Regions from separate parts of the Homo sapiens genome. Here all the other regions are linked to region 1. The links come from fine-mapping of genetic effects on gene expression. A gene starts in region 1. Each other region holds a variant in brackets. All regions are shown on one strand. Distances are between the middles of the regions.

Region 1 (4,508 bases):
ATGGAATAGTTTCAACCCGAAACCATCTCCCCTACCCCTGTCCATGGAAAATTTATCTTCTGTGAATTGTCTTCCACCAAACTGGTCCCTGGTGCCAAAATGATTGGGGACCACTGCTATAGAGCACTACGTGTTTAATGGAAACTATTGGTTATACAATGCCTATTATGTGTCAGGAAGTTTTAATATGTCTGTAAGGCATTTAGTTTCTTTAGTAAATAAGGAAAATGAGGCTTAGGGAAATTACTTCCCCAAGTCACAAAAGTAGCTAGCGTAATAGGAGCTCCACCTCAGATGCAGAAGAGGGTATTCTTGCCACTACACTGTGATATTTTTATACCCATCCAGTTATGGTGATCCTTAAAGACTTCATGAAATTTGAAATGAACTCAGAAGAAGGAGATTTTCTCAGGTGAAGAAAGAGCTCAAAACAAAGTAGGGGAAAGCATTACCAGAAGAAGGAATATTTGTCCCACTGAGCGGAATAAAGGCTCCTTGAAGGGGAGGTAGAAGATAAGGCTTGAAAAGACGATGAGGTGAAGGGTCATGGATATCAGACTCAAAAGTTTGTAGCTAGTAAAAGTGAGCCGATAAAAATGTTACTGCTAAGGAACACATCGATTTTTCAGGAAAGACAAGAGTTTTTCCTGGCCTGAGATCCAAAATAAATTTCTTACATGAGATCTAGTAAGGGCACAGGGCACACCAAGTCACCGTGAGTGTCAAAGCAAATCTCAGAGTACTTTTAATCCAACAAACATTTATGAAACATCAGGCTTGGTGTTTTGTGCTAAATAATTCAACCTTAGAACAGAATTCAGTGAAGAGAATACGAGGCTAAATTAATATGACTTTCAAGATCTCCAAAAGGTAGGTTGATCATCTGTTCTGTTAACCATGATCCTGAGATATTTCCTTACAGATGAACTTTTCTCTTATAACCAAAGGTTTACAGTTCAAGATTATACACTTCATTGAGCACCCTGGTCCTGTGGTATTCTTTGCTGTATACCAAGTGCGGATTAATCCGCAGCTTTGAAAATCAAAGAGATATCACCAGTTGTTCATCACCACAGACATTTAGCTGGACTATAAATATTGGAAAGAAAAAAAAGTTGCTCGTGAAAATACGTGGTGAATTCCTTTAAAGAGAAACCGGTGAGAAATATTGCTTCACCTTAAAGCCTAGGATGGTAGCTACCGTTTTTCTCAAGACTGTCCTTACATAACCTATTGGCATGGGGAAAAAGTCAATGTTTATAAACTCCTTAAGAAACTTAAAATCTGGAAAAGGCAACTACGTATCATGTCAACTAAAGTAAGATAATTAACACTAGGATCAAAATTTGGAATCCACGTGAAAGATTCTGCAAAGATCACTTAAATCTCAGACCTTATGCACTATTTTAAATATTTATTTAAGCAGAAATAGAAAATCTTAGTCTATTATATTTCCATTTAATTTCCTGGACTTAAGAAATCTATGTGTGACTGATTGAGTTGCCTAATGGGGTGCAAACATAAAAATTTGCATTGGGATTCATTTTATTCTCAGTTTAAAATCAGTAGTATCATTGAAAACAAGACACTAATTTTCTGGAAGTTTAATTTATTTGTCCCTCTTATTATCGGGGCTGGTAAAAAAGGGCTAATTGAACACACATTCTAACAAAGATTGCAGCAACGCCTGCAAAGACGGGCCCAAGCGCACCGTATTTCTGTTAAGAACGTGTGATTTTTTTTTTCTGCGCCACCTTGTGGCCGTAAAACAACTTGCCCACGTGAAAGTTGACCGCTTTTTCCCGCGCCGGCAGAGCCTTGCTGAGAGCCGCACTGCGGGAATCCGCCTCCAGACAAACGTGCAGAAAATGGTGTCTTCCTTTACAACCAGTGACAGGAAACAGACTTCCCCTTCTTCATACTCCGTTTCCTTTATTCCTGAATTCCATTTCCTCGGCCCGCCCACCCACTGTCCTCAGACAGCCGTTTCCCAGTGTGACCTCCTTTTCCAGCTGCACTCTCCGGCGGAGGCCCTTTTCCCAGCCCGGACCCTCCCGGGCGGCCCTCGCAGCCCTCACCTCCGGGTCCCCGCCGCCCCTGCTCCATTACAGCACGATCCCCGCCACACAGGCCCGCCTCTCCCTCCGACAGCCAATCGCGGCGCGACCCCGCCCCTCCCGCTGGGGCCCGGGGCGCTAGAGCGCTCCGGGAGGCTAGGGGAGCTGAATTCTGCGTCTTCCTTTAGGCTGCGGCGAGACAATCCCCAGAGCCCCGCGGCCCGGCCTCGGGGCAGCCATGGACTCGCAGGAATTGAAGGTGAGCGGGTGAGCGGGTGAGCGGGTGAGCGGGCGGGCGGGCGGAGTTCCTTTGCGGCCTTTTGGCCCGGGGGCGCGGAGGGAGCTCGGGTGGCTTCGCTAGGCCGCTGTTTCCCTGCGGTGCCCCGGCTGCTCGGGTTGCGGGGTGGGCCTGCAGCCTCTGCTCACGGCCGGTCTCCGCGGGCCCTGCTGGGGAAGCCCAGGTCTGGGCAGCCCGCCCGCTCGGTGTTTCTGAATTGCTGGTCCCCATGCTGTTGGTTGTGTTTACTTTTGTATCATGTTTACTAGGAAAGCTTGGGTTACCTATGACACTGCGCCTCCGGGTGCGATTTTTAAGGACTTAAGGCAAACTAGTGTCAGCTCCCACACTGGACAGTAAAAAGAGCGCAGAAAGATTATATGAAACCCATTAAAGACGTAAGACTTAAAAGTGGAGGGGTCGTTATTTTAGGGTGATGGTCTTCTCTGTTTATCACTGACTCATTCATTCAGCAAATATTAATGACGGTCAACTTAAGAAAGGCTGATATAAAACAGTTAAAGACATGAGGCTTGAAAATAAAATAACTTTTCGGATGTTGGTCTTCTCTATTCATTTGTTCACTGAATCACTCGTTCAGCAAATATTTATGAAGGGTTACTGTATGTCCATTAGAAGCTGGAGATAGCAGTGAGCAAAACTGAACAGTTTCTGCCTTCTCAGATTTTACAGGCTAATTAATGCTGGGGAAAAACCCTAATTCAGTTGACTCAACAAATATTTACTGAATGCCTCCTATGTGTCTAGCACTGTTCTAAGCACTGAAATAATAAAACCAAGAAAAACTCTTCCAATCTTGGAGCTTACATTTGAGTAGGAGGAGTCAGACAACAAGTAGGTAAATGAAATGTGTATCCTGTGAGATGGTGATAAGTGGATGGAGGACAATTTGGCGATGTAGGAGGTTAGGGAATGCTGAAATGTCTTGTTTTTCTGCCTGAAGTTTTACATTATCCTCTGTTCTAGCTATCCCCCTATATCCTTACATTTTTTTATTCCCTTAAATGTATTATTTGCACTGCCACCCAAATGAACATTTTAATAAAAACACTTTAATGTAAAATGTAAAAATGGGCCTCCTCATTACTTAGACTTGAGGTTCAAGTCCAAGTACTTAATATGAGGCTTTTCACCCCACCTTCGTCTCCAACCTCATCATCCAATACTCTCTGTCTCACTTAAGCCTCCAGAGCAGAGAATAGCAAACTTTCTCAACAAAGGGCCAGATAGTACACATTTTAGACTTTATGGACCGTATGGTCTATCACATCTAATTGGCTTGTTCAAAACAGCCATAGACAATACTTAAATGAGCATGGCTGTGTTTCAATAAAACTTTATTTATGAACACTGAAATTTGACTTTCATGTAATTTTCATGTTATGAAATATTTCTTTTTTTTCCTTGACAGCTGGAAAATATAAAAACCATTCTTAGTTCACTGGCTGTACAGCCAGCCAGCCAGATATGGCCCACAGAGTGTGGTTTGCCAAACCCTGCTCTAGAGTATGGAGTGGCTTTTAGTCATCTTCATCACCACTGCCATCCCAATGTACCATTGATGACTTGTTATCTGTGTTGTTGCAGTTCCTCTTCCTAACTCCTGTACCTTCCTCAAGAATCATGAAAAGGAAATAGGAAGAGCGTGTACGTGTGTGGAGGGAGAATGAGGGGTTTGCAATTCAAGAGTCAGCTCTGAAATCCTCCCCAATAATCTTTCCCTTGATTTTAGTCATCCATCCTCCCCTCACACCACATTCAGTTTTCAATGCTGTCAAAATGTTGCTATCCCACATTCCCAAAGGAGTTTATAAGCTCTTTTCTTACATTTACTACATTATATTTCAGTTAGTCTTCAGATTACAGTCTCATCTGAAAAATGTAGGTTTTCCGGGGGGACAGGAACCATGTCTTACTCATTTTTCTATTCATAGTAGCTAGCCCAGTGCCTGGGTACTAGTAGGCAGTCAGTAAATGTTTTGGATTGAATAACCTAACCTGAACCAAGGCAGTAGCATTAGGTATGTTTAGTGGGAGGTAGACTGGAGAAATAGAAGAACCTACTAAGTGGTTAGACTTAGAGAGACTGGGCAAATAGGAAGGGAGGATTCATGAGTAGCAGGGTAGCAGGTGGAAAATGGAAATATGAATCT
Region 2 (4,508 bases), 110 kb before region 1:
AAAGCTACATCTATGAAGTTTGTACATAAGCATGTATGTTTCAATCTGAGAAAAATGGAGTTCTCACAGAAGAAATCCTATGAAAAAATGGTCCTTTAATGTTGGCCTTATTGTTAGCTTCCTGGGTAGCAAGGATGTCTTGCACAACAGTATGTCTTATGAAAAATTAAAGCAAAACAAATACCGTTGTTCAGTAAAAACCTTACCAATTCCATTTATAAATTCAACTTGCAAGTATTTTCCATTGCACATATAAATCTTGTTACCAAATAATCTTCTACACATTCTTTAAATTTTTAAAATGAATAAAGGGAATACACTGTAAAATCAGTAAATGTTTTCATCTAAGGCTTGAACAATTGATAATTATGCCCATTTGTTTTTAACTTTTGTGTCAAAGTATTAATTTTCTCTATGTCAAAGGACTTTTAGATTTAGAATCACATACCAACATTGAGAGTGCTTTGGTTTCATTAAACTCATCTTACTTAGTTTCAGCCCTTTATACCTCCTTTTATCTTATTTTTTAAATTGACACGTAATAATTGTACATATTTATGAAGCATATAGTGGTTTTAATACATATGATGTATAGTGATCAGATCAGAATAATTAGCATATCCGTCATCTCAAACATTTATCATTTTTTGTGTTGGGAACATTCAATATCTTCCTTCCAGCTATTTGAAACTATATAATAAATTATTTTTAACTGTAGTCATCCTACAGTGGTGTGGAGAGCTAGAATGTGTTCCTCCTATCTAGTTGTAATTTTGTGTCCTTTAACAGATTTCTCTCTGTCCCCACCTTTCCCCGATTTTTGTCTAGAATCCTCTGCTCTTTTTACTTCTAGGCAGACTTCCTTTTTGGAACCTTTTGTGTTTGGTTTCTGAATCTTGCCTCTTTTACTTTTTAGTACTCAGGGCAGAAATATTTCCCCTCCCTTCTTTTAGATCTCTAGCTTTGCCTTTTACTTTACCACTCCTTGTCTGTCTTTTCTGTTTTGGTCATTTATTACCTCTGGTCATGGTTTGGGCTGAACAGTGGCCAAGGAGCCAGCATCACAGGTGTTCTCTTCTAAGTATGGTCCTGTCTCCTTAGGATGAGCCTGGTTATTTTCCTTATCCACGGAGGTACAAACAGTACCATCTTGATTATCCTCACACTCCAGCCCATGATTTAGGCCATCTATGGATTGTCATTTCTTTCTCATTATCTCTTTGTATCACTACTATTTGTTTCAAAATTAGCTTTTAATATTATCTGAAATCAAGAGATTCTTATTTTAAAATATATATATTCTGTGTTATATTTTTACTGGTTCTCCTACCTGTGCCCCTAATATTTCTTTTTCTTTTTTTCAGATGGAGTTTTGCTCTCATCACCCAGGCTGGAGTGCAGTGGCGCGATCTTGGCTCACTGCAACCTCCGCCTCCTGGGTTCAAGCGATTCTCCTGTTCTCCTGCCTCAGCCTCCCAAGCAACTGGGATTACAGGGACCCACCACCAGGCCCAGCTAATTTTTTTGTGTGTTTTTAGTAGAGATGGGGTTTCACCATGTTGGCCAGGCTGGTCTCAAACTTCTGACCTCAGGTGATGTGCCCACTTTGGCCTCCCAAAGTGCTGGGATTACAGACGTGAGCCACTGCGACTGGCCATCTGAGCCCCTAATATTTCTTTCAGATTTTACTCAGCATATCTGGGGGGAAAGGAAGTATATGCAGTACATTTGAAAGGTGGACCATATTTATTCCTGAGCTAGCTCACTTTGGGCCTTTCTGTGTCGTTACATGCTCATATTCCCCCACAGCAAAGGCATTTGCATTGCACAAGTCTGTTCAGATTTACGATGATCTCACAATGTCATTCAGGGACAGAATCCCTCAATGAATCAGAGAAAAAGAGGGCTAAGTATTGTTGGCATAGGGGATTGTTCTTCTAGTAAGCACAGGTGAAATTCTCCCTTCCTTCAAATGCGCTTTGTGGTAAAGCTCTATCTGTTTTCTGGACTCATACTCCTTCAAAGATGATAGAGGGAATGCAGGCAGAGGTGAGACTTGGAGCAGTGCTTCTCAAACTCTGTTGAGGATGTGAGGTCTCTATTCTTCTATAAAATGAAGTAAAAATTAGTTTCTAGAAAACTGAAATGAAAAACAGGCCCACAACAACATCCCCCTACTTTTTTATTATTAGAATAGACAGACACAACATTAATTGGCCAAATTGCCTTACAAATTTCTAAACATGGACTCTCCATATCTATACTTAACCAGTACTGGTTGGGGGACCATACTTTCACAGCCAGTTTAGGACACTTCTACCCATACCAGATAGAAAGTGCTTAATTTTCAAAAACCAACTCCATTAGCAGGTAGGGGTGTGGGAGGGTGGGTTTGCTTTACTTGAATTTAGAAAATCCTGCAAGTATAGGGGAAATCTGTTAATGA[G/A]CTAAGACTATACAAAGATTCTTAGTAGAAAATAAACATAACATTTATGCTTGCTGTATCATAACATGATCTGTGCAGATATGCATCCTAAGGCTTAGAAAAGAAAGCTTTCGAAGAATGGGTGAATTTAAAATCAAGAAGCTTAAAATTTCCTTCCCCAAATATGCTCTTCACAGAGATAAAGGCTTTCTCCCTGGCTCTGTCTAAATATAAGTAAGCACCTTGGAAAACATTGAGTCAGAGCCCTTTTTATACCCTTACATGTTGCTTCTTTAATGTTTTGTCTGCCCACTGCCAATTGATCTCAAATAAGTCTAATTTTTGGAAGGAATTTCATTCACATTCATGGATCCTGGATTCTTCAGGAGCTTGGAGCTTCTCCTCTGTGATAAGAAAGCACTGCATAAGATAGGAAGTCAATTGGGATTAGAATTCAATATGTCAGCTAACTCAGAAATCCCAGTACAGAATTTAGCACTCCTGGTCAACGGGTACTCTCCAGGGATCTTGGCCTCCAGAAATCAATTATTGGATTACATCCATCTAACCCAAGAGTGGGTTTGATGGTGGCTGTTTTTATTTTCTATTACGAAGAGAGTGATAATGTTTATTTTATGAGGATAGATGGTAAAAACAATCTTTATTTCAAAAATAGTATCAGTTCTGTTGAATGATTTTGCGTTCCACAGGATTAATTTTCAAGATATTTGAATTGGGAAAGCTGAAATGACTATAAAAAGCATGTAGTGCCTTAAGTTTTTTGGAATGAAATGAAATGTGCACCCATTTAAGACTTTCATTTAACTCAGACACTTAAAATATCGAGAAAATAAATGACTTCTCTTGGCTAATTGTCTTATGTACAATAAAATTGAGGGTAAGTATTAGGTAAAAGGTAAGTGGTATCATTGGATTTCCTCTCTAATTAAGAAGAGATCCAGTGACAGTTTGTTTTCATGGGGCACTTTAGAAATTGTGATTGTGCTGGTTTCTCATTTAACTTTACAATAATTTATTATGACAAGTAACAGAAAGTAGATAACAGAGTTTAAGTGGTTTATACTTTCATACTTCTATGTTGTGTTCCTGTCTTACAGACTTTTATAGTATTGAATAAAGGGAAGGCCATCTTCCGGTTCAGTGCCACCTCTGCCCTGTACATTTTAACTCCCTTCAATCCTCTTAGGAAAATAGCTATTAAGATTTTGGTACATTCATATCCTTTTTCAAGTGATTAATATTAACTATTTGTACATGATCTGTAAGCACTTTATAGCTAAATATCAAATTAAGTTGGGAAATGTCCATATTATATAGTTTTCATCACTCTCATTTTGCATCTTTGTCATATTAGCCTCATTCTTAAAGTTCATTAATCACATAGACATTACTGAAACATGTACTCTTTAACATTTTATATATTATATATAAACATGTATTTATGTACTTTTGTTATCTTTCTAAAAACACTTATATGTATTGAATCCTACAAATCTAAAGTAAGATAACCATGTTTACCTCTACCATCTTTATACAAAGTTTGTGATGGTGTAGAATTTTCAGTGAGCAATGATATGATAACAGAAAAATCTACTTCCAGACTCAAGTTTATCCATAGTTATGATATAAAACACTTCAGTGTATCTTAGAATAAACCTTTAAGTATATTTTCTGTCAGAGAATGTCAGGAGTCTTTGGCCAGTACTTAGTTAATTCTTGAAATTTCCTGATGATTTTTGTGAAGGAAGTACTGGAATATTGGCTGAATTTCAAATTCAAGTCATGAGTTATGATGCTGCCATGCAAAACTGTTTGCTTAGTAAAGACTCCGGAAGTTAATGAGAGAAGTTGGCATATATTTCCAAATGGTCTTAAGGGATTTGGTTTCATGATTCCCATTGGTGTTAAAAAGGACTCCACGACTAAATTCATTTGTTAATCAATTTAGGAAAACAATTCACTTCTGATTGTATCTTGTTTGATAGCTTTGACAATAATAGATATTAAAATACCATTATAATTATCATAAGCTCATACTTTTTTTTAAAGGATTCTAAAATTT
Region 3 (4,508 bases), 93 kb after region 1:
AAAACATAGCATGTACGTGAATTCCCAAAGTGCCTTCCCTGGGCATTCTTTTCTAGCAACAGTATACCTTCTGGTGACTTTCTAACAAAGCAATTACATAATTCCTGGAAAGCGTGTACTTTTAAAATTTTAGATCATTGAATCTCATCCTTTCATTTTAGAGGTAAAAAGGGAGCTCAGGAACATTGATTAAATTGCCCAATTCATTTTTATATATGCATTTTTATATACATATGTATATATCCAAAAATAATATCATATAATTATATACATGTACCTACACACACATTCATATATAAATACACACATGTAAAGAGGAAGGAATCAGTTACACAAATACATAATTTTTTTTCAGGTTGTCTAAAAGTATACTCCAAGTTCCCCCAAGCTAGAGACCATTATTATCAGTGATTGCTCTACAATTTGCAAGTAGCAGAAACCAACTTAGGATGGCCTGAGTTATATGTAACTCTTCAAGTTGGCACTGGAGCTGAAAGGTGGGAAGGAACTGGAACCAGGGACTGGAATGTGGGCAGGACTCTATGCCTTTCCTCTGATACTTTCTGCATGTTGCTGTTCACTCAACTATCCATCCAGATATTCACTGAAGACCTATTCTATGCCAGGCACTGTGCCAGGCAGAGGGAAAGCCCTCATATCGGGCAGACCTGGTCTTCTCCAGTAGATCTTGTGAAACTTATTGGCTCTCATTCTCTCTTGCCACTGCCATGTAAGTAGTAGCTTTTGCTTCCACCATGATTATGAGGCCTCCCCAGCCATGTGGAACTATGAGTTTGTTAAACCTCTTGTATTAGTCTATTTTCATGCTGATGATAAAAGACATATACCTGAGACTGGACAATTTACAGAAAAAAAAGAAGTTTAGTGGGACTTACAGTTCTACTTGCCTGGGGAGGCCTCACAATCATGGTGGAAGCCAAGGAGGAGCAAGTCAAATCCTACATGGATGACAGCAGACAAAAAGAGAGAGCTTGTGCAGGAAATTCCTCCTTATAATACCATCAGATATTATGATACTTATTTGCTATCACAAGAACAGCACTCAGATATTATGAGACTTATTTGCTATCAGAAAAATAGCACATGCCCCCATGATTCAATTACCTCCCACTGAGTTCCTCCTACAACACGTGGGAATTCAAGATGAGATTTGGGTGGGGACATACCCAAACCATATCACCTCTTTTTCTTCCCAGTCTCAGGTATGTCTTTAGCAGCAGCAGGAATACAGACTAATACAGTAAATTGGAACCAATAGAGTGGGATGCTGCTGAAAAGATACCCGAAAACAGGGAAGCAACTTTGGAACTGGGTAACAGACAGAGGTTGGAACAGTTTGGAGGGCTCAAAAGAAGCCAGAACAATGTGGGAAAGTTTGGAATGCCCTAGAGACTTGTTGAATGGCTTTGCCCAAAATGCAGATAGCAATATGGACAATAAAGTCCAGGCTAAGGTGGTCTCAAATGGAGATGAGGAACTTGTTGGGAACTGTAGCAAAGGTGACTCTTGTTATGTTTTAGCAAAGTGGCTGGCAGCATTTTGCCCCACCCTAGAGATTTGTGGAACTTTGAACTTGAGAGAGATGATTTAGGGAATCTGGTGGAAGAAATTTCTAAGCAGCAAAGCATTCAAGAGGTGACTTGGGTGCTGTTAAAGGCATTCAGTTTTATAAAGAAATCAGAGCATAAAAGTTCAGAAATTTGCAGCCTGACAAGGTGATAGGGAAGAAAATTCCATTTTCTGAGGAGAAATTTAAGCTGGCTGCAGAAGTTTGCATAAGTAACGAGGAGCTGAATGTGAATCATTGCCAAGACAATGGGGAAAATGTCTCCAGCGAATGTCAGTAGTCTTCAAGGTAGCCC[C/T]TCCCATCACAGGCCTGGAAGCCTAGGAGGGAAAAATGGTTTCATTGGCTGGGCCCAGTGTCCCTCTGCTGTGTGCAGTCTAAGGACTTAGCGCCCTGTGTCCCAGCCACTCCAGCCATGACTACAAGGGGCCAAGCTAGAGCTCAGGTTGTGGCTTCAGAGGGTGCAAGCTCCAAGCCTTGGCAGCTTTCACGTGGTGTTGAGCCTGTGAGGGCACAGAAGTCAAGAATTGGGATTTGGGAACCTCCACCTAGATTTCAGAGGATGTATGGAAATGCCTGGATGTCCAGGAAGAAGTTTTGCTTCAGGGACAAACCTCACGGAGAACCTCTGCTAGGGTAGTGTGGAAGGCAAATGTGAGGTAGAAGCCCCCACACAGAGTCCCCACTAGGGTGCTGCCTAGTGGAGCTGTGAGAAAAGGGTCTCTATCTTCCAGACCCCAGAATGGAAGATCCACTGACAGCTTGCACTGTGCACCTGAAAAAGTCACAGGCACTCGTTGCCAGCCCATGAAAGCAGCCAGAAAGGAGGCTGTACCCTGCAAAGCCACACTGGCAGAGCTGCCCAAGACCATGGGAACCCATTTCTTGCATCAGCATAACCTGGATGTGAGATAAGGAGTCAAAGCAGATTATTTTGGAGCTTTAAGATTTAACTGCCCTGCTGGATTTTGGACTTGCATGGGGCCTGTAGCTCCTTCGTTTTACCCAATTTCTCCCATTTGGAATGGCTGTATTTACCCAATGCCTGTATCTCCATTGTATCTAGCAAGCAAGTAACTTGCTCTCAATTTTACAGGCTCATAGGCAGAAGGGACTTGCCTTGTCTCAGGTGAGACTTTGGACTGTAGACTTTTAAAAGAGTTAGTGCTGAAATGAGTTAAGACTTTGGGGGACTGTTGGGAAGGCATGATTGGTTTTGACATGTAAGGACATGAGATTTAGGAGGGGCAAGGGGCAGAGTGATATGGTTTGGCTGTGTCCCCACCCAAATATCATCTTGAATTCCCACGTGTTGTGGGAGGGACCCCATGGGAGGTAATTGAATCATGGGGGCAGGTGTTTTCCATGCTGTTCTCATGATAGTGAATACCTCTTACAAGATCTGATGGTTTTATAAGGGGGAGTTTCCCTGTGCAAGCTCTGTTTGCCTGCTGCCATCCATGTAAGACATGACTTGCTCCTCCTTAGCTTCCACCATGATTTTGAGGCCTCCCCAGCCATGTGGAACTGTGAGTCCATGAAACCTCTTTTTCTTTATAAATTATCCAATCTTGGGTATCTTTATTAGCAGCATGAAAATGGGCTAATACACTAGTTCTCACTTCTCACAGACGTTTCACTACTCCCATGTTGTAAGTTTGGCCACATGCAGAGAATGATGTGTAGTTTCTTAGTCCCCAACTCCCACCACCAATATGGCCAGGAAGGAGGCCACCAGGTGACACAGGTTACCCAGGCCCACATCTATGGATAAAAAGGTTGCTGGGCAGACAGCCTGAAGGCTCCACTACAACATGTTATCTGATCCTTTTGCACTTCTCCCTCCACAGTATTTAGTCCAATTTTTTTTTTAATTCACTCAAGTGCTAGCTTAGTTGAACACCTACATTTAAAAACCCACAACTTTTAGTTAAACAATGTAGAAAATTACTGGACTTTCACTGATAAAGAAATTTGCAACATGGTAAATTATTTGTTCAAAATCATAATTCTCCCATCTGTTTTATTTCTCCAAATGTCCAAGCAACCCAAACCAGGACAGTACCAAGGGCTGTACCACCCTAGTGGTACAACCACTAGATATCACCATGACTAAACTAAGAGTTCAGTCGGAACTGTGCTGCTGAGAGTATCAATGAGTTGACAGCTGCCCAGGCTTGCACTTTTCCAAATCACGGAAGAAGGAGCCATAAAGAGCCAGGCTCATCAAAATTGAGTATAAGCAATTCTCAAAGACCATGTTGATAAACAACAAGACCCTTGACCTTTATATTCCTTCTTTATGTGCTAGGTGGCCCTTATATTTACACATTTTTAAATTATTATATAAAAAGAGCCATTAACCATGGTCCCAGCTCATGTAAAAGATGGAGAGATGCTGGGAAGGTATCAAATCAGTTTGGCTCCAGTTAGCCCCAAGGATTTTTCATTAGGCCACGCTACTAAGTCTCTCTGACTTTAATCCCATTTTCTTGGGCTCACATATATCCTGGGGCATTGTGAGGTAAGAATAAGTCAGTCAGGAATCAAACAAAATTCAAAGAAATGGATAGGCATCATGATATGGTTTGGCTCTGTGTCCCCACCCAAATCTCATCTCAAATTATAATCCCCACATATCAAGGGAGGGACCTGTTGGGAGGTGATTGAATCATGGGGTGGTTTCTCCCAGGCTGTTCTTGTGATAGTGAGGGAGTTCTCACAATATCTGGTTGTTTGATAAGTGTCTGGCATTTCCCCTGCTTTCTTGCTGTCTCTCCTGCTGCCTTGTGAAGGAGGTAGCTTGCTTACCCTTTGCCTTCCACCATTATTGTAAATTTTGAAGGCCCCCTGGCCATGTAGAACTTTCAGTGAATTAAACCTCTTTTCACTATAAATTACCCAGTCTTTGGTATCTTTATAG
Region 4 (4,508 bases), 110 kb after region 1:
GTGCCCTCTGTGCTTACATGTTGAAAATTATTCATGTGACATTCAGGCTGTTCTGAGGGTCATTTGATGAAATTGTTGGTGCATCCCATGGTGCAGGGCCCAAACCACCCAATCTTTCTTTAACAATTGCACTTTTGCAAAGAGGCATGATGGTCGATGCTGGGAGGCTCTTAAATTGAGAGAATATAGACCAATTCAGAAATAGTTTTGCCACTGAGTTTGTGTAACCAGCTTGGATAGCCAGATACATCTTCTTTTTTTTATTATTATTCTTAAAAATCAGATAACAGTATTTACTAGTTAAGGCTATTCTAAGGATTAAGGGAAGGGAAATGATGATCTGCTATTTATAGAGTATCGACCATGAATAGGGCATTGTATTTGGTGTTTGAAAAGCTCTGTTTGCAGGTCACACTTTAGGTACTGTTGGTTATGTTAATAGCTCAACTTCAGAGAACTTCTAACAAAAAGGTGGTTACTGTAATTTTATTACAATTCCACTGCTAAGTGTGGAGACATAGCCCCATTCACGAGGTTTACTCTTTGCAACTGGAGAGTAGCATTCTAATGACAAAAGAGGCTGAGAAGTTATTCATACCTCTTCAGATGAAGAAATGTTTGTGCATTCCAATGCTAAATTTTGCTGTTGCTATAACAAGAACTAAATAAGATTCAGATTTTGTCAGCCTCTGAATATTTTGGAGTTAGCCAAAGGGAAAAAAAAACACCTTTTTTTTAACTCATTGGTAAAATTCAGGAGCTGCAAAATAAAACAGGTACTACTAAAATTCTATCTGTTGCTTTTGGTTGATCACCTTATAGAAAGAAATGAACTATCAACCCCAGATGGAACACATATATCTATTAGTAGGCAGATAAATCCAAATAAAAACCGTGACAATGTATTTAAAATAATTTTGAACAGAAAGGATTCCCTACTCTGGGTACCACAAAGTTTTTAGAACTTCCCCTGGATAATTGAGGTTGGTACACATACCCTAAAGTAAACAGCAAGTAACTTCTCTACATGGTTGTCACAAAACCCATGGACTTTTATATATGGATATATACATATATAGATAGATATATGCATTCATATTATATATATATATAAAAGCATACATTTTACATATATATAGATAGATATATGCACACACACACACACACACACACACACACACACACACACACACAGGAAAAGATATGACCATGGTAGGCATGAGGATGGCCAAGGGAGGGTGTAACATCTAAAAAAAATCATGGTAAAAAGAAGTAAAAGAAAACAGAGAGAAAATGTACCAAGAAGAGGCAAATAGAATTTGTAAACATGTGGAAGTTCAGGGCTATTTGCATCATGCCAAGTCCTCGCATTCCAGTGACCCTTGCAGACATTACTGTTATAGCACATTAATTGTTATGGATACTTGGATATTCTGTGCCAAAACTATATAGTTAGTTTCTAATCACTGCAAACAATAAATAATTCTACTGAAAACATTTAGGTTTTTTTAAAATGGGAAATTAACTAACAAAAAGTAGTCATCAGGTTAAGTGATGAATCACATAAGATAAACCGTAATTCTTAAAAAGTGTAGATAAATGAAGTTATTTCTTATTTAGCCTATTTTTTCTTTATCTTTCATCTATCTTATCAAAATGGATAAAATCACTTTCAGCCAAATTATAACATTTATTGTAGGACATATTACCTCAAATTTGTAGCCAAGGGTAAATATTGTATTTAAGGTAAAGACGTGTATCTTAGGTTTTCTGTTTTGTTTTGCTTGTTTTCATTTTTTGGTTTACTTATTTACTCATTTATTAATGTATCATTTCTAACTTCCTGAAACACTGGATTGAAAATGTGTTCTGGACCCTATGTCTAAAAATGTTAAAGTTGTGTGATTATTTGGAGGAGGATTATATTAGCTTTTCCTAGTATTTTCTTCCTTATGAAATCAGGTTGACCAGGACAAAAGAACAATCCTATTGATGCATTCTGCCTTGCAGAGCAAGGTGTTCACAGGAACCTGTGTGTGCAGGTCACAAAGCCCTTGATTGGTGAGTGAATGAGCGGGATTGACAGTGGAACTCAGGCTGAAGGACTCTTTTTGCTATTTATACATAGAGTAACAATCTACCACAAGACTGTTCTGCTCAAAGGCAAACAGATTCTCTTCCATTAAGATAAGACTAATGAACAAATTCTAACACTGGCCAAAATATTTGCCATCATGTTTTCTCCAAGTACAAATCTAAGAAATTAATTACTTTATCTTTAGAAAAAATTTTCCTCTGCTCCCTACAGAATTTCAGACCACATTTTCCTGGTGTGGCTTCCTTTCCCAATAAAATGTTGGGTACATACTTTTGTAAATTCAAATATCCAAGGTCAGCATAAGCTCTTTAGCCAGTAACAATAGAGCTTCATTCCACAACATTTTTAGTTGTCTTTGGGGATACCTCAAGTGCTGAGAGATGAGTTAGTCACATTCTGTAGTTAATAATGTTCAGTCATTAGCTGTCTGGTCAGGCCTCTCTCTTCTTTTCCTTCATAATGTTTTTTCAGTTCATTCTTGACCTCATTTCCATTTCGCATTACCCCACAAGCAGCCATTCTAATGAGCTTGATATATGTTATTGAATATATAAATATCTTTGAAAAATACATAAACTCATTACATGCATGCATGTTTTAATTTAGATAAATGATATT[G/A]TGCAATAGATTTCATTCTCTGCCATACTTTTTATTCACTTAACATGCTTTTTTTCTTTTTCTTTTCTGAGATGGAGTCTCACTCTGTCGCCCAGGTGGAGAGCAATGGCGTGATCTCGGCTCACTGCAACCTCTGCCTCCCAGGTTCAAGCCATTCTCCTACCTCAGCCTCCCGAGTAGCTGGGATTACAGGCGCCGCCACCAGACCAGGCTAATTTTTTGCATTTTTAGTAGAGACTGGGTTTCACTATATTGGCCAGGCTGGTCTCGAACTCCTGACCTCATGATCTGCCCGCCTTGGCCTCCCAAAGTGCTGGGATTATAGGCGTGAGCCACCTCACCTGGCTCAACATGCTATTTTTAAGATGATGCTATACGTGCTAATTCACTGCTACTGACCATTGCATGTTATTCCATAGTGTGCATTGAATACATTTTATTTATTTGTTCCCTAATAATAGAACTTGTTTGACACCAGCTCCTAGCTCCCACAAAATACGTGGGAGACCCTATCATTGGATCTAGGGTACACCCACCAATTTCTCCAAACATTGCTAACTGACTGCATCAGTCCCAGATTCCCACTAACCTTGTACAAAGGCTCCAAGTCTCACTGTCCCCCCAACACCTAGTATTATTGAAAATTATAATTTTTACAAACCTCATGGGTATAAAGGGATATCTCATTTAAATTTGTGTTTTTCTGGTTATTAGTGAGGGTGACCATTTTACCAAACATTGTTAGCCATTTGAAGTTCTCTTTTATTAATTGTGTTTTCAAATCTTTTCCAAATATTTAAATTTGTTTTACCTTATAGCCTATTCACATTTTTTTTAATGTAAAGTGATTGGAAAAAATTAGGATGGTTACCTATCTAGCATCTTTTGGCTTAGAAGATGGCCTAGAAGTTGGAAATTAGATTACTTGGGAAATTTTTCAGATCGTGAGGACTATTAAATATGGGTTTGAATCATAGTTTTACAACTTAATTGTTGGGTGAATTAGAGCAAGATACTTTTTCTTTGTGTGTCTCTGGCTGGCTGTGTGTGTGTGTGTGTGTGTGTGTGTGTGTAAAATGGGGGAAATAATTGGGACTTATTGTAAGGGCTTGCTATTTTCTATAAGATGACTTATATAAAGTTTGCAGTATAGCACATGGACAACTGCAGGTGTTCCATAAAAATTAGTTTCTTCCTATTCTGTATGATATGCATATATGAGGAACTCAGTAAATAAAAGCTCACAGTATTGATGTCACCATCATCATCATCATTGTTTGGAAGTATTTAGGAAAAGCCTTACCTGAAGATGAGTATAGACCATCTGTCTTCTTAAGATCTTGTCCAGTCCTATGTATTCATAGAATTCACTCACACAAATTTGCCTTAGTGGTGATGAGTTATCAGATTTCTTATATTCCCTTGAAGCCTTGGTAAATTGCTGATGTTTGTCATTTTCTTAAAATCTTGTAATTTCTTCAGATGTTTTCTGTACTGATTTGAAAATCACCAAATTAAACCTAAAAAAAAAATCCATACAATTTAACTAAGGCCATATTCCTTCCATCTTGTCTTTCTCCTTCCTTCTTTCTCTCTCTTCCTTTCTTCATTTCTTTTCTTTTCTTTCTCTTTCTTTCTCCTTTCTTTCTTTCTCCTTTCTTTTCTTTCTTTCTTTCCTTCCTTCCTTCCTTCCTTCTTTCTCTTTCTTTCTTTCTCCTTCCTTCCTTCCTTTCTTCCTTCCTTCCTTGCTTCCTTCCTTCCTTCTCTCTTTCTCTCAGCTAGTTTTATAGCT
Region 5 (4,508 bases), 74 kb after region 1:
TGAGAAAAGTAAAATGATAAGAAATTAAGTTTAGGTATAAATAAAATGTTCAGTCTTAAATGTAGTGATTTTTAATATATACTTTCAGATTTTTCAATATTTTTAAACTCATATTCTGGAAAAAAATTACAATTAAGAAATATACAAAAACATGCATCCATGTTTTTATGCCTCAGTGTGGCTTATCATAGCACTGATGTTTGAAGTAGATTCACCTCTCTCCTCCAGAATCAAAATTGAATCCAAACCTCTACATCTAATTACAACTTCCAGAAAACGTCAGTGACATAGGAATATATTATATAAACACCACAAGGATGCAGTCAATTAACCTGCGTTGTGAGAAACTCGGGGATAAATATTCTTGTTTCTATTACATTTAATTTCAAGAAAAGAGACACAGAGAGACAGACAGACATACCAGAAGGGAAACCTCTGGATCAAGAGACTAGATCAAAACATTGACCAGTTACAATGTTTGGTCCTTATTTCAGTCCTCAATCTAACAAAAACAAATTATATTGAGACAATTAAAATTTAGACAGTACTGGATATTTGGTGCTATTAAGGAGTCATTAACATTTTAGGTGTGATAAAATTGTGGTTCTGTTTAAATAACGTCTTTTTCTTTTACAGATGCACACTAACACATTTAGACTTAGTTGATACAATATCTGAGGATTTTTTCTGGTAATACAGAAGGGTAGGTTTGTGAGATAGAGGTGAAACAGTATTAGTCAAAAAATAATTATTGAAGATAAGGGTTCATGGAGTTCATTATGCTCTTATCTCTGTATTTGTATGTGTTTAAATCACTCATAATAGTGTACCTGTGCTTGTGTAAAACACAAGTGCCCTATTGTGTATTTCTGATTCTGTAAAGAAAATCCTGATTCTGCAGATATGTGATGGAGACTTGCCATCAGAATCATTTATTAAGTTCAGTAAAAAATTTGATTGCCTAGCCAAGGTTGAAAACCATTGTTTGATTTGTCATTTAAATGGGTTGATATGATTGACCTCTATAGTCACAAACATCCCATAAAATCTTAGTGATATCAAGTTTAATCTATTGATGTCTCCCATTTTTCTTCAGTCTTGCTGCAAAGCTTATGAATATATGGGATACATTATGGAAAAAGAGCAAGCATATACAGATGCTGCCTTGAACTATGAGATGGCATGGAAATATAGCAATCGGACAAATCCGGCAGTAGGTGAGTTTGGCAATCACCTAGATTTTTCACAGAAAAATTATGTTGTATTTATTAATTTTCATTTAAATGCATTTGATTTTTTTCAAAACAAAATAAACATTGAGTCAATTTTCATTGTCAACCTTTCTGAAAGGAGAATAAATTTTATATTCATAATATATTATTAGCTACTAATAGTTCAGTTTCCTGAGTTCCAAACTTGTCCTCAGTCACTTAGTGTACATCTAGTCTAATTCTGCCCCCTTCTCTTCCTTCTAAAAGAAGGTGCTATTTTGAAATTGGGAATGCCATGGAAAAAGATGTTTCCATTGCCAAGTAAGTTAGGAAAATATTGCATTAAATTGAATTACACAGGTTTCTTTACTTCTCAAAGCCTTTAAACACTAACGTATATTGCGATGGATATCACAGAGGGGCCATGTTTCCCACAATTATTTGACCATGGGACATTTTTTTTTTCTCCTGAGCATCTAGAAACATCATCCAGTCCCAGGCTGGATGTTGCAGGCTGTTAGTTTGGGTAATGCTAGTCTACAGTGTCCCTAACAGAGGTGGCATCAGAATATATGTCATGACCAACCTCTCTCCTCATACGAGGGAGCTCATCCTCATGTTTGTGTACTCTTTCTTTGTATTGGGTTGAAATATGCCTCCTTGAAACTGCCCAAGTCTGTTTTCCGGAGCAACTTACAGAATGCCTCCCTCTTACAGATCATGACCCTTTAAATTGCAATCTTCAGTCCTGTGTCCTAGGACTTGTCTTCAAGCCATCTGCAGTTACTTGTCCATTCTTCCTAAGATTGGATTCCGAGTCTCTCATCTTCCTTGTTGCTGTCTCCTGGAAGCTCTAAAATAGTGTTTCCCAAACTGTGCTTTGGAACAGTTGGGGAGATTTTAATAATTATTTTTTTTTTAATTAAAAAGAATG[A/G]AGTGTGAAGGTGGTAGATGCCATGGCCATGTAAGTTTGGAAAGTGCTGTTTTATTTTTCCATGCCCCTCTGACCTGTTGTACCATAAATGAACAACCTCTCAAATATGATTTGGCTTCTTATAAGTATAATTAAGCTATTTTTTTCTTTTGATTAGGCAATTTGTAGTTGTTAATTCAGCCTAAGATGGCATCAGTCTTTTCAGCAGCCATGTCACCGTGTGAATTCGATTTTGATTTGCAGTCAAATGAGTCAACCTCATACTAACTGCTGTTAGCTCAGGTCTTCCCTCATCTGTTAGTTTCCTGGAGTCTGTTCTCATACTATACTAGACTTGTGCAAAGCACAAAAACTAATGATTTTTATAGTATTTTTTATTCTAAGGTGTGATATATCTTTCAGAATAAAGTCATCTGGTAAAATGAAAAGTCCTTAAATATCCTTAAAATATTAATTTTGACACTTTATTCCATAGAAGGAATGCACATAGAAGTTAAATTATTTATATATTCCATTCCTTGGAAGACCTCAGCAAATAAAGAGATTCCAAATGACTAGTTCTTTCATTGTGTCATCATTGTATTTTATAGATTATTTTATCAGTTCCTCTAGCTTTGCTTTGGTAATCATTTCTTTCTAAGGCTCTCCATTAATTCCTCAATTTCATCCTTAAGATTGTCATTGCATCTAACACCCTCAATGTGCCTGGCCAAATAAACAATGTATTTCACTTTTTCAGTTGTCAGAAAACCCTTAAAATCATGCTCATGGCCAGGCGCAGTGGCTCACACCTGTAATCCCAACACTTTGGGAGGCCGAGGTGGGCAAATCACCTGAGGTCAGGAGTTCGAAACTAGCCTGGCCAACATGGTGAAACTCCGTCTCTACTAAAAATACAAAAATTAGCCGGGCATGGTGGCGGGCGCCTGTAATCCCAGCAACTCAGGAGGCTGAGGCAGGAGAATTGCTTGAACCCGAGAGGTGGAGGTTGCAGTGAGCCGAGATCACACCACTGCACTGCAGCCTGGTTGACGGAGTGAGACTCTGTCTCAAAAAAAAAAAAAAAAAAATCGTGCTCATGCTCTTTCCATAGAATTCAGGGTTGAATATTGTCACTATAAGAGGCACCAGGATGAATGATGAATGGATAATTTGCTTGACTGCAGTAATCATTTATAAATAAATATATATACACACACACACATATATCTACACACCCACATCTACACACCGACATCATTTTGTATATCTTAAATATATACGAGGAAAAAAAGAAACACACTAGGAACAACTGAGATCCAATGAGAGAAGAAACTACTCATGTTTCACCCTTCATACCTATTCTCAGGTTATAGGACAGTCATTAGACTGTGTAGAATGTTTGCATTCTCTCGCTGTCTCTCCTGATTGCATATAGTTGAGTTCTAATAAGTTTGGCAGGTGTAGTGCAGCTGCAGTGCACATTTTCTTTCCCCTTCTTAGGTCTTTATTTCCTCTGAAATTTTTGTACCAGGTCATGTATCAAGTTTCTTCCAGTGTTAAAATTCTGTGATTATAATATAGTGAATGCTTACATTAAAAAATGCTAATATTTTGTGGTATTCTAAGGTTTTAAAAACCATTTCACAAGTATTTTATATGATTTTTAAAATTATACTAAGAGTTAGAGGGAGGAGTTGTTATTCCTGTTTTAGCGATGAGGAAACCTGAAAATGACAGCTCAAGCCACTTGCGTAAGATCCCAAAGCTAGTCAAGAAACCACAAACCAAAACTGAAATCTTGACTAGTTCCCATGTAAGTATGTTTGGCATGACATCTTAAAAATTGCTTTACTTTTTGAATGTCACAAACCCTTTTAGTTCATTTTAGAATTTGTTGGTAATGACATTAAGTTTACCTCTCTGAAACTTCTTATTTTTGTCTAAAATCTGAGATGTGAGATTCTGCCATAGGCCCTGCCCATGTGTGCCTGTGTGCATGTGTGTGTGTGTAGAGATATATATATACACACCTATATAGACATACATATATATACACACACATATATAAACATACACACATATATATATGCAGTCATGTGTCGCTTAACAATGGAAATCTTCTGAGATATGCATCATTAGACAATTTCATCATTGTGTGAACATCTTAGAGTATACTTACACAAACCTAGGTGGTAGATCCTACTACACACCTGGGCTATCTGGTATAGCCTATTGCTCCTAGGCTACATACCTGTACAGCATGTTACTGTCATGAATGCTATAAGCAATGTGTGTATGTAAACATAGAAAAGGTACAGCAAAAATACAGTATAAAAATCTTTGGGACCACCATCATGTATGTGGTCTGTTGTTAATGAAAC

Which allele goes with the higher level. Alleles are on the strand shown, and positions count from the first base shown. SD is a standard deviation of normalised expression in the study named. Not every link is listed here.
For the expression in stomach of the gene that starts at base 2,225 in region 1, T is the high allele of the variant in region 3 and C is the other (moderate effect, 0.43 SD a copy in GTEx).
As copies of A replace G in region 5, the expression in subcutaneous fat of the gene that starts at base 2,225 in region 1 goes up (small effect, 0.25 SD a copy in GTEx).

The links. PIP is the estimated chance that this variant, and not a neighbour inherited with it, causes the effect. A credible set is the group of variants that fine-mapping cannot tell apart.
Region 2: its variant is the best candidate, but not a certain one, in a credible set for the expression of TTC21B in whole blood (TOPMed, PIP 0.83).
Region 3: its variant is the best candidate, but not a certain one, in a credible set for the expression of TTC21B in stomach (GTEx, PIP 0.86).
Region 4: its variant is the best candidate, but not a certain one, in a credible set for the expression of TTC21B in blood mononuclear cells (TOPMed, PIP 0.64).
Region 5: its variant is the best candidate, but not a certain one, in a credible set for the expression of TTC21B in subcutaneous fat (GTEx, PIP 0.61).

Annotation. Positions count from the first base shown.
Region 1 is chr2:165,951,493-165,956,000 of GRCh38, reverse strand. TTC21B (tetratricopeptide repeat domain 21B) reads left to right here and starts at 2,225. Exons shown (of 29, transcript NM_024753.5): 1 at 2,225-2,316. The coding sequence starts at 2,296. RefSeq lists an enhancer at 1,461-2,210 and a silencer at 1,975-2,374.
Region 2 is chr2:166,057,724-166,062,231 of GRCh38, reverse strand. SCN1A (sodium voltage-gated channel alpha subunit 1) reads left to right here. Exons shown (of 29, transcript NM_001165963.4): 5 at 3,544-3,662. Among named protein-coding and RNA genes, the nearest start is that of SCN1A-AS1, 22 kb to the left of the region's middle. The variant G/A (reference allele first, on the strand shown) is at 2,447.
Region 3 is chr2:165,858,448-165,862,955 of GRCh38, reverse strand. LOC100506124 (a long non-coding RNA gene) reads left to right here. Exons shown (of 4, transcript NR_045375.2): 2 at 1-12. Among named protein-coding and RNA genes, the nearest start is that of GALNT3, 66 kb to the right of the region's middle. The variant C/T (reference allele first, on the strand shown) is at 1,884.
Region 4 is chr2:165,840,418-165,844,925 of GRCh38, reverse strand. No RefSeq gene overlaps it. Among named protein-coding and RNA genes, the nearest start is that of GALNT3, 48 kb to the right of the region's middle. RefSeq lists an enhancer at 18-833. The variant G/A (reference allele first, on the strand shown) is at 2,717.
Region 5 is chr2:165,877,388-165,881,895 of GRCh38, reverse strand. TTC21B (tetratricopeptide repeat domain 21B) reads left to right here. Exons shown (of 29, transcript NM_024753.5): 27 at 1,097-1,217. Among named protein-coding and RNA genes, the nearest start is that of TTC21B-AS1, 54 kb to the left of the region's middle. The variant A/G (reference allele first, on the strand shown) is at 2,146.